Regions from separate parts of the Homo sapiens genome. Here region 1 is linked to region 2. Evidence: fine-mapped QTL for protein levels in blood plasma. A gene starts in region 2. The other region holds a variant in brackets. All regions are shown on one strand. Distances are from middle to middle.

The links. A credible set is the group of variants that fine-mapping cannot tell apart. PIP is the posterior inclusion probability: the model's chance that the variant is causal. The UK Biobank Pharma Proteomics Project read protein levels with antibody pairs (Olink). The fine-mapping took linkage between variants from a reference panel, not from the people measured, so its PIPs are less certain.
Region 1: its variant is the best candidate, but not a certain one, in a credible set for the plasma level of the VSIR protein (UK Biobank, PIP 0.71).

Annotation. Positions count from the first base shown.
Region 1 is chr10:71,820,033-71,823,719 of GRCh38, forward strand. PSAP (prosaposin) reads right to left here. Exons shown (of 14, transcript NM_002778.4): 8 at 1,844-1,975; 9 at 208-303. Among named protein-coding and RNA genes, the nearest start is that of PSAP, 29 kb to the right of the region's middle. The variant C/A (reference allele first, on the strand shown) is at 1,812.
Region 2 is chr10:71,769,135-71,777,134 of GRCh38, forward strand. VSIR (V-set immunoregulatory receptor) reads right to left here and starts at 4,386. Exons shown (of 7, transcript NM_022153.2): 1 at 4,224-4,386. The coding sequence starts at 4,305. All of the region lies in intron 38 of CDH23 (cadherin related 23), which reads left to right. RefSeq lists silencers at 4,186-4,265, 4,286-4,615.

The DNA.
Region 1 (3,687 bases), 49 kb after region 2:
CTACAAAGCAGGGCAATGGTGTCCACCTCCCCGGACCCCCGCCAGCCTAGAGGTCCCACTGGTGAGGATTGCCTTCCACGAGATGGGGACATGGCTGTACACATGTCAAGGCTGGGCCAAGCCCTCTCTCCTGTGGGACTTTCCCACTGGGACATTCAGGCTCGGGGGGGCAGGAGAGGCCCTCCCTCTGCCAGGAGGACAGCATACCTCAGTCTTGTTGTTGTCAATCAGCTTGGTCACCTCCTTCACCAGGAATTCACACACCTCACAGTAAACATCAGACTTTGCTGGGACCTCGTGCTTCTGTGGAAAGAGTAGAAGGAGAGTACTTTCAATGCTGGGACTCACAGCCCTTGGTCTTGCTCCCCTAAAGGAAAGGGGACACAGAGACCAGGGTGGGTTAGCACATCAAGGGCCACTGCCTCCTGAATTCCAAATGGCGTGTGGCTTCTAATATCCAAGTTAATTCCCTATTTTTACATTCACCCCCTTCCCCAATCCTCTACCACCCCCACCTCCCCCTAACCCCACCAAAACAAAACCCAGGAATTCACAGTTCAGGAGACAGAAAGTCCCTTCCCCACCCCGAAGAGCTGTCCTGATGATGTGTTCGGTTACAATCATTTCATCATTCAGGGTTCATTTTGGGGAGGAGGATGAAGGACCAAAAGCAAAGTGAGGGGCTCACTATCGGTCCACTATCTAGAAGACAGAATGTTGAACACACTTCAGGTCTGCTCGTGTGTCTCCCATGTCTCATTAGCACTTGAGAATGCTCTTCTGGAACCCACCTTTAATAAGGCAATACTGTTACAGAGGATGTTCTGTGGCAATGGAAATGTTCTCTATCTCTGCTGTCCACTATAAGCTCCAGCTACCTGTGCACTGAGCACCTGCAATGTGGCTGGTGTAGCCAAGGGGCTGAATTTTTAATTTTGCTCCATGGTATTTCATTAAAATTTAAGTAGTCACATGTGGTTGGAGTGCGAGCTATAACTCTTCACTTTCTCTGGCCGTCACTTTGGTCAGCAGGCTGGAGCTGAGGAGCACCCGGTGGAGAGGAAGGCAAGAAGCAGTGCTTCCTGGATTCCAGCTGACACTTCGGCCTGGCCCCTGGGTCACACACTCTGCACATGCAGAGAGGAGACAGCAGAGAGAGACCAACAGCTGGCAGTCAAGTGCCGTGGGATGTTCTAGAACAAGAAGCGTGTACATGTGCCACGTGTTAAGGCATCACACAGCCCAGGCCTTGAAGAACTAGAATGTAAGCCCCACGGGCACAATGACATCATCTGTTCACCACAGCCCCTAACATGCTGCCTGACCCATAATAAATGCCAAATACAAATTTATTATGGGATGAAGTAGTCTAATCTTCACCAAGTGAGGTGTTTTAGTTAAATAAAATAGACACCCACATGTACTTAGTATACAGGCTGCAGGCCCAGTGAGGCTTCCGTACACTCTGAGGGGTGTGCTGGGAACATCCAGTCTGTCAGGGCCACAGGATGGGGAAGGACCCAGACAGTGCATGTGAGAAGGTGAGGCTGAAGCCAGGCACTGCAAAGTCACCTTTGAATGGCATGCTGAAAATACACAGGCTAATGATCCCACGAACATTAGGGTTTACAACCAAGGAAATAAAATGTTTTCAAAAGAACTCAGGGTCGGGGGCTGCATTAGTATAGGGGATAGGATAAACCAGTGATCACAAACTCAAAGACCTTTAGGAGCCAGGCAGGGAACCGAAAGAAACAAGTGACTCGTAAGATGTGATGTGACACAGCAGGGAGTAGTGTGGCATTGCACAG[C/A]CCTGACCAGGACACAAAGTGACACCAGGTACCTTAATGGGCTCCACCAGTTCCAGGGCAGGGATGACATTCTTGGAGGCCACTTTGGCGGGGACCAGAGTCTGCATGGGCATCTCTTTCACCTCATCACAGAACCCAACCAGCGCACAGATCTCCTTGGGTTGCTGAAGAGAGCACAGAACAACCAGTCAGCAGCAAGCCTACGCCCACTGCTCCTCAGTCCCAATCCAGCCAGAGGACAGGGAGCTGGACAGCACCCTGGGCCCAGGTCAAGGCTACCTCCCTCTCCCCCTCCCACAACGGGGCAGATTCCAGTTTCCATGTTAAAGGGCTCGTGTCTGAAGCAGTGCATATGTGCCAGTTACATCTCGGGGAGGAGACCACACAAAGCTCCTAAGGAACATCAAACAGAGTCTCCATCCAGGGCCACCACGAGGGAGACTCCCCAGCACCTTCCACATCTCCAAGGACACCTGGTCTGTTCTAGAATGTGTCTTTTCAGGTCACTCTAGGTAGGAACTAAGCTATGCTTTTTTCTAGAGGGGGAACTACCATGCCCATAAACTAACAGAAAGCCAAATGTGTTAGAAATAAAACCACACCAGATTTTTCAGCGGCAGGACCATTTAAAATGATGCATTAAGGGGAAATGCTGGCTTTTTAAAAAACCACATTCTATGTTCAAGCTGCACACAGTGCACATGAAAACCCAACCCGCCAAATGGATGAATCATTTTAAGCCACAAGGTCTCCAGATTGATCCCCTTTCACCATTTAGACACCAAACACAGAGCACTAGATAGTCTAGACATCCTGACCATGACACTCTGATGGCCAAGAGTGAGACAAGTGTATAGACTCTGTATATTGTGGAAATAAATGCAACCAGCAACTAGCTCTGAGCCTGAGTGCATTTGCCTTCCAGCACCAAACCCTAAAGCAGCAGGAACAAAAGTGCTAAAAACAGGACCTGTTAAGGGAAAAGAGCTAGACCATGACTATGGCTCATCTTGTTTTAATATCAAGAAGGTTCGAGAATTAATAAGACCGGGGGAGTCTGAAAAGTATATCCCAAATACCCTGTCTCTGCCACACCTTAAGAATGAAAAATAAATAAATAAATAAATAAATAATAAGAACGCAGCTGAAGATACAGCAAGCTTTTTAGAAAAAAAAAAAAGACGCCAATATTCAGGAGGTATAGGGCTGCTTCTGCCTCGATCAGCTTTGTTCCAACTCCTTGAGGAGGCCTAGGTAAAAATTCAGGTATTTCAACCAAAGTCCTCTCCCATTAGACTTCAAAATACCTTCAAAAAAAGCTCCAATGCTAATCCTAGCAGATGGATGCCAACGCTCAGAGGTGGCAGTGTTCAGGACGGCCCCGAAGGACACTGGCTCAGAGCAAGTATGGACTGGGCATTTGGTTCTTGTAGCATGCCATCTGATGTGGCTCTAGATCCCAAAGGACCCTGTTACCCAGAGGGGCAGAAGCCACAATCAAGAGATTGTTTCCAATTCTCTGGATCCAACAGCCAGGAACAGTCTGCTGGCTGTCTGCAAATGTTTGCTCATGCAGCAGAAGCATTTCTGTGTTTATGAAAAACAGCACTAAAGACATGCAATGCCTACTTGCGTTGTGACAGACACAAGGTGCCCTGGGGAAGCCAGACCTACACTGGACTTCCTAACTGGCCTACGTTGAAGGAGGCTGAGGCACCTCCTGGGCCACCCATGGTTCCCCATTGTCACACTGGTGGCCTGCATGTACGTATGCTGTATGTGGACTGTGACCAGAGCACAAGGCTCTGCTGGCTTCATTTTACTGGACCCCGAAGGGGAGATGAGACCCCCAAAACCTCAAGGGCTGAATTACAGG
Region 2 (8,000 bases):
CATATATAGAAGAGGTTATTCCCTTTACAATTATTTCAGTCCTGATTACATCAAAGAGAAAGTCTCAGTTTGATGCTAATATGTCTCTAAAACATTTGCTAATCTCCTTTTCTTTTTAAATTTTATTTTATTTTAATTTTTTGCAAGGGAAAGCAGCAGTTTTCAGACTCCGAGCCTTCCCAGGCTAAAGTTTCCAACTAGAATTCAATACCCTTATATGGTTTTCCTGTTACGTTCTTTTATGGTTTTGTTCTATTTATGACAAGTGATACTGGCTTTCCACTAATGACAGCGATAAAAAGTTTCCTTTTAAAGATCTACATACTCAAATAAAAGAATGAGTAGATTTAAAGAAAAAAATAAGTAAATATTATGAAAGGCAGACACTGCAGAGATCACAAAGGTGATAAGCAAATGACTGAAGCTAGGGAAACACCATCATGGAATTAACCTTCAGAGGAGGGTGGTCAGCCTCACTGAGACCACGTCACCCAACCTGTCCATTGCACAGACAAAGGGGAAGTGTGTGTTTGTGTTCCCATGATGAGTGAACAGCAGAGGCAGGGTTTGACCCCAGGTCCCCATGGGAAATAAGATCCTACGCAGAAAGGCTAAAGGAATGGGCTTGCTTGGCTTGGTAAGTAGCAGAGCAACCTCATTATTGGATTACTGATGAGAAAGATGGTGGCCACTGTCTTTGTCTTTGGTGATGGCCAGCCAAAGTGAATGGACCGAATGTAAAAAGATCAGATGTAAGAAAGATCCACCAAGATAAGCAAACCCAGGGCCAGGCTTGCCTTCAAGTTGCAATGTCCCCATCTCCTGACAACTTTAAGAAGAGAACCTGTAGGCACCTCCATGGGCATTTCAGACTGTGAGGGCCTACAGGGGCTCACAGGTAGCTGGACGCAGCCCATGCACCCTTCATACTCCAGGCTTTGGAGAATCTAGTCCCAGTGAAGCTCACCAATGCCTTCCCAGGCCCTGGGCACTCCATTAGGCCCTGTAGAGAGCAAGCAGCTTAGATAGAAAGCCAATGGCATGTGGCCTGCAGAAGCCAAGAAATACCATAATATTACACAGTATTCACGAGGAGCCGGGTGCTGTGTTAAGTGTTCGTTCATTGGCTCTTCACAGTTGCCCTCCAAGGGAGGTGGTATCATCTTCCCACTTTAGAGGGAGGGGAACTTGCTCAGGGAGACTGAATAACTTGTCCAATATCACAGAGCAGTAAATGGCCATCTTGGGATTTAAGCCTAGGTCTGAGTGACTCACAAAGCCCAAGAGTTAAGCAAGGGGCTGTACGGAAGCCCTGGCATGCATGTCCCTGGCTTTGCCATATACAGGCATGCTGGGACTGCAGCTAAGGGCATCTGTGGGGCCACTGGAAGCCACAGTGCTGATCCCTGGCCCACCCTCCCCTGGGAGACCAGACTGACCCTGGGTCATTGGTTGGCTAAAGCCTGGGGCCTCAAGTTTGGTATGTGGGGCTCGCTCACTGCCAACGGGTTCTCCTTGAGGATCCCTTTCTTCCTTTCATCTGCTCAGGCCTAACACCCCATACACTGTGTGCGGATAGGGAGGTGACCCCTTTAGCGTCTCAGCAGCACACTCCTGCCTGGACCACCCTCTCCCAGGAAGGTCAGACCCCAGCGGAACCTTTGCCCTGCTTGGGTGGAAGCATGAACAACTAGTACAGCTCAGCAAGGGACTCCCAGTATTGCTGGCCCTTGGGTGTCCCTGGCATTGGGTAGATGACCCCTCATGCCAGGGACTGGCCTCAAGGCTGTTCCTCTCTACTCCAGAGCCTCTGGGCAGTGGGTTGTGGATTTCCTAAGAGCTGACCATTGCTGCGTCAGAGGCTTGCAGCACTGGGTTACTCAACAAGGCCCTGCAGCCTGGTTTGCTATGAAGGAGAAGATGGGGTCTCTCGTCCCTAGCCCCAGTGCACTTAAATGTGCTAGTCCCAGAGGTTGGGAGTCCTGAGTCAGCCTGTGAGGACAGGGCAAGGACAGTAACTGCCTCGGGTCCTGGGAATGTCTGTGGGGAAGAAGAGGCTCTGCTACCCTTGAGATCTGCTGGGTCCTGGTCCCTAAGTGTACCTCTCCACCCATCTCACCCTGAGTCAGGCCCAGGAAAGGGGTATCTTTGGTGTTTCCTGGGCTTCTGAACACCACATTCATCACTACCATTCTCCTCAGTGCTGGCCCAACCCCAAGAGCTGGAGAACAGGCTGGCCCCGGCCACTCTATCTCACTTTCCCTGGCATAAAGGCTTTGACCTTGGGCAACATACCCAGGGCAACCCAGCACCTCGGCAGGCTGGTGATCAATCTTCTCAACTTACAGATCCTGCTGACCATGCCTGCAACCAGGCCTCCCATCTGCTATCTCCCTCAGTGCACACTGTCCTAGGGAGTTGGGTGAATATCTATTATAGTGTGTCCATGTCACAGTTCAGAATCCTGAGGTCCCAGAGCAATTCAAATGCTTCTGGCTCCTTTCAGTGGAAAGCTGCAGCCAGCCTAAATCATCTCCCTGTGCTGGGCCCAGGAAGAGATGACCCTTTAGTATACCATGTTGTTTGAGTAGCCAAGACCTCTGGGAGTAAAGGCCCCTGGCCATATAAGCAATATAGGGGAAGGCGTCCTGAGCTCCTCTTGGGGCCTCTCTGCTACTGGGTGCTCTGCAAGCTGGGTCCCTGTGCCCTGGATCTCTAGAAATGTTTCTCAAATTGGGGCTGCTGAACAGAGGGCAGCCCAGCCAAGTGAGGGCAGGAAGTGGGCAAGAAAGCAGGAAGGGTCTCACAGGGCCACCAGGGAGGGCAGTGCAGGGCAGGTGGCCCATGACAGGTGGGATGCTGGCTTGCCTGCCTGCCACCATCCTCTGTTCCTTCTGGAAGCCATGCCCTGCCATGAGCCATGGCCTTGGTGCTGAGACTGTCCATTCCACCTCCCATTCTCCTCCTCCCTCTGACTGTCACCTTGAGAAGCATCCACCCTGGGGCTTAGGGCAGCTGTGTCTGTGACATGTGGAGCCCTCCTCCTCCTCAGAGGCCCAGGCCAGCCTCCAAGTGCTGAGATAGCCAGCTGCCTGTGGGCACCCAGGTTGCTAAGGTATCTTCCAGGTTCAGCCTCCTCCTCTCCCTCTTATCCTATCACCCTCTCCTTCTATTCCATCCTGCCCACTGGGTCCCTGTGCCAAGCCCTCCACCTCCCTCCTGCCTCCCTCCGAGTCCCTGCATGACTCATACTTTCCCTGGGCCCTCCCTATAAAGTTTGGTTCCACAGGCTCTTTGAAGAGATCCAGCCTCTTCAGCTCTGGGCAGGCAAGAACTAGGCAACCAGGCCATGGGTACCAGGGCCTCTGCCCCCAGCCCGGGAGCCCCTGTGTTGGGGCCAGGATACTATCTGAACATGCTGACAGTCTGGACTTTGGAAGGGGAAAATGGTGCTTCCCTGTGTGGGCTTCTGTGTTTGAGCTGAGGAAACTGAGGCCAGAGAGATGCCGTAATTTATCCAGGGACCCAGAAGGGGCTCATAGCTGAGCTGAAGAGTGTCCCACATCCTCCCCAGTACTCCACACTGGTCCCTGAGTGGCAGCCTTGCTAGGATGGCAGGAATCAGCTGACCACTTATTCCTGGGCCATCAGACCCTTAGAATAGGGACCAGGTGGGCAGTGCTGCCTCTGTGTCTGAAAGTGGACCCACCGTGACCAGTGCCCAGTGCCCACCAAGGCTCAGCCAGGGGTTTCACCAGGGCATGGGGCACTGGCTGAGCATACCACGCCCTCTGTGTCCTCTGCAACACTAGAGCCCTGAGACTAGAGGGGCAGAAAGATGCCAGCTGTCAAAAGCCAGTGATATCCACCAGAACACACTGACCGCCCCCACCCTGTGCCTCTCCTTCTTTGCAGAAGCTACCTGTGCCCTGGGTTCTCTGGGCAGGGAAGGGCTGGACAGGCAGCCCTCAGGGGACAGCCCTGCCTGCCACTTGGGCAGCTGTCAGAGCATGCAGATGTGCCCGATGCCTAGCTGGGGCACTTGGCACAGTTGCCACTGCACCCTGCCTAGGGGTCCCAGCAGCCTCTGGGCGGTGGGTGGAGTGGGGTGCACGGTCACACAGGCTGAGAGGGCCCCCAGGACGCCCCCATCCCACAGTTCCCACTCCAGTCTGCTGTCTTCTCCCAGCTTTTTCCCAGCGCCCCGCCTCCCCCGACCTTACCTAGGGACGCAGCCAGGAAGAGAGCGAAGAGCAGGGATCCCCAGCGCCAGCTGCCGGCCTCCAGGGCCGTGGGGACGCCCATGTCGCCGTCGGACGCGCAGAGGAACTTCTGGTGCCGGGGAGCGGGCGGGACGCGGCCGGCGCGGGGAAGCCTCCCGCGACTGAGTGCGAGCGAGTGAGCGCTGCGGGCGGCCCCAGCGCCGTGCTCCAGGCACCCGCCCCCTTCGCGCAGCGCCCCCGGGGGGCCGTGTGGGGGAACTGCCTCTCCGAGGGCCGCGTGGGAGGGGCTTCCCGGAGGCCGGCCCCGTGGGTGGGGAGCCAGCGTGCGTCCCAGCGAGTCAGCTCCACTTGATCGGCAGTTTAAAGCCCGTTCTACCGTCCCCCAGTCCTTTTGGAGAGAAATTATTATTGCTGCGCAGCCTAAGAAGTAGATCTACCTCTAACAGCGTGATAGACGTTACCATGGCTTGCATCTGCCCTCAGCCACCAGCCTTTGAGTGATCTGGGGACAGAGACTTGTACCCTACATCCTCCAGCCAGACCAGGGCTTGGTATGTGGTAGGCACTCCCAGCTGTGGAATGAGTGAGTAAATGAGTGAATGAATGAAATCTGACATTGTGAAGAGCTAGGCAAGCTGGAGCCAGTTTAACTGTAGATTCAGAGCCTGAGGCACCCTGAGTGCATGCGCGCGCGCACACACACACACACACACACACACACACACACACACAGAACAGGTGCAGGACTACACGCCAAGATCAGCACATCCCTACCCCGGGACACACACAGATATGCAGGCAACACCTGTTGGCGTGCCCCACAGCACATCCTGCAAGCTCCCCTCCGGCAGAGGCCTCAGCTGTCCGCCTGGCTGTGCACCCGCCCTCCCTCCCTGGTGCCTGGATATCTGCAGGACACTCTGATGCACCCTAACTTCTAGTGCCTCTGCTCTTGCACCCACACCCAGCACTGCTGGCACCACTGGAATGTCTCTCCCCTCCTAATTCTTCTCATCCCTCAGGGCTCAGCTCAAGTCCTCCCACTTCACGAAATGTCCTGACCCTTCCTTTTTCCCGGCAAATCCTTACTGTCCACACCCCCTTCAGCTACCACCTCCAGCCTGAGATAACCAGCAGTTGGTTCTTCTTCCGGCTGTTCTGCCCTCCAGAGCGAAACTACAAACCTCTCTCTGATGTTTCTGAGACCCTAGCACAAAGCTGGGCGTGGAGAAGGTTTTACTGCACTTTTATCTGAATGGACAAACCAATGAGTGAGTGAGTGATTGTGTGATGGAGGAGCAGAGGTGATCGTGGCCAGGACCAGGGATCACAGGAGTGGAAGAGCACAGCCATTTTACTCAGTTTACCCCAGTCTAGCTGAAGCTTCCAGGGGTTTTTCTGGCACTTTAGGGATCTTGGGTTAATAGGTGACTCCTAGGCTGAGAGGCAGAGGACACTCAGAGTCTGACTGGGTCAGGAACCAGGGTATCAGGACTCAATGGGAGCCAGGAGTCCTGGGGGCCTTGTGGGTGGCCTGATCCAAGTCACGGGCTCTCTGGAGGCCCTTAGCCCTTGCTCTAAGGGCAGGGAAGGCTACAACAGAGGAAGGCTGAGGCATCATGTTATTACTAAGTGAACTTGTGCAGGCCCAGTCCCCCTGGAGCCAGTGAACTCCCCAGGATGGGAGCCCCAGAGGCTGGCAGGACATAACCCAGGTCCTTGGGCATGCTCCTGGCCTTGTGACCCCACCTTGGAAGGCAGCCCAGGGCCCTTCCTGCTGGCATAGCATGAGCTCCCTTCCACCAGGGGAGGTACAAAGCCAACTGAGATCAGGTGGACACCGGGCCCTTCTCACCCTGACATCCTCTGGCAAGTGAGGGGGGTCCCTTAAGGGCAAGATCCTAGAGCACCACCCCATCTCAACCCTTCCTGGACTGGCTTTGCTCAGGACACCCTTGAAACCAGACTCCCTCTTCCCCAGGGCCTAGCAGCCGGGGAGGGCCTGGAATTAGAGAAAGGGGAGCAATTGCCCTGCCAACCCCTTCCCCAGGGGGATAGAGCCTCTGAGCTGGGCCCAGTTCCCTCCCCCCTTTTCACTTCCTTTCTCCCTACCACACTGCCCACCACTGAGCCTCCTGGGGTTGCATCAGGGTGAGACACAGGCATTGCCCAAGGACCATGGTCCAGAAACCTCAAGCACTGTTTCCTCAACACCAGGGCAGGACAGGAAGGGCTCAGCTGAGAGGGCCTTTGGAGCACTGACTTTCTCCTCCCTCCGAGACCAGAGGAAGTCAAACCCACCTTCCCTCCCCAAGCCCAGACCTGGTCTCAGAGCAGGAGGGGCTCCAAGGCCCAACTCTGTTCAAACTCTCCACTCCCAGCCCCTGCAGCCTGCACACTCCATCATGTGTTTGTGCTTGTTTTCATTAAAAATAGTGGTGAAGGCCCCAAATATTCGAATAAAGATGACTGTCAAGGAAAGCCACCATGTCCATCTTGTGGCTCTGCAGGGCCTGGAGGCAGCTGTGAGTACTCTCTACTGGTGAGGGGCCCAGCCTTGAGCCTTCCTGAGTCCCCTTACTTGCCGGCAAGAATACAAGAGCACCACATTGCAGGAAAGGGGCTGAATTCCAGCCTCCCTGTTGGGGAGGGGATGCTGACATTTCCCACATTCCCAAACTCACCTCCCAAACTCCCTGAGCTAGAAACAACTTTAGAAATCAAGCCAGGTCCTTTATTAAACAGACAGAAAAGGTCCAGAGAGGGGATGTGACCTGCCCAAGGCCACGCAGCTCCTTTTCAAGGCTGCCAACCCTATCTGCTTTGGAAACCGTTTCAGCAAACACCCAATGCCCTCCACCCCCAAGATCCAGAGCTGCATATCAGAGGAATCATTGCCTCCTCAGGGGCAGTGACAGCCTTCTTGGGTCCAGATCCCCTGCCCATCTGTCCATTCTTCCAGTGGTAGCTCCAGAGCCAGCCAGTCCCAAGGAAAAAACCATATGCAAATTGCCTACATTGAGTTGTCTGTACCACCTGCTTTCTGTTCTCTGGCCTGGCAATGGCCTAGTCACGTTCTCTCTACCCAGACACCTTTGCAGTGATTAACACCTTATTATTTTATATTAGTCACTCATTATGATTTGTATTAGTTAGGGTCCTGGCAGGAAACAGATGGCACACTCAGAAAGGGTTCAACTGAAGAGAGTTTAATACAGGGACTGTTTAGGAAGGCTGGTAAAGCACCCAGAGACTAGCACCAACCACAGGAAGCCACTACCACTCACATGTCCAAAGGGAAAGAAGAGGAAGTGATGTTCTGGAGCCCAGTGAAAGCTGGTGCTATGAAAGGGGGACCCCTGTCCCCAAGCAGGAGAAACACAGCCATGGGCAGAACCGCAGTGAGGAATGGAGGGAGTGTGGAAGAAACACCCCCGCCTCTTTCTCCCCACTGCTTTCATCTTCAGCCAGGGCCTCCCATTGGCCACACCCAGCAGGAAGCTGGATAGCAAGGGAGCCAGGGTAAGGCAGTTAGTCCACAGGGGACATCTTCCCAGGTGGAGAAAGGCAGGAAGCAGGAGCAAGAACCATTTCTAGTTGATTCTTGAGTGCTGATTGCCGAGTTCTGATTAGCTGAATATTACTTGTGGTCCAATTGACTCAAGCATTGGCAGAGATGGCCGATCACAGGAGAGTATGTTGTAGAAGCTGTTCTTGGAATGAAGTTATGTTCTGTGAGTCTTATTTTTCACAGGTCAACAAGTTCTGCCCACGAAA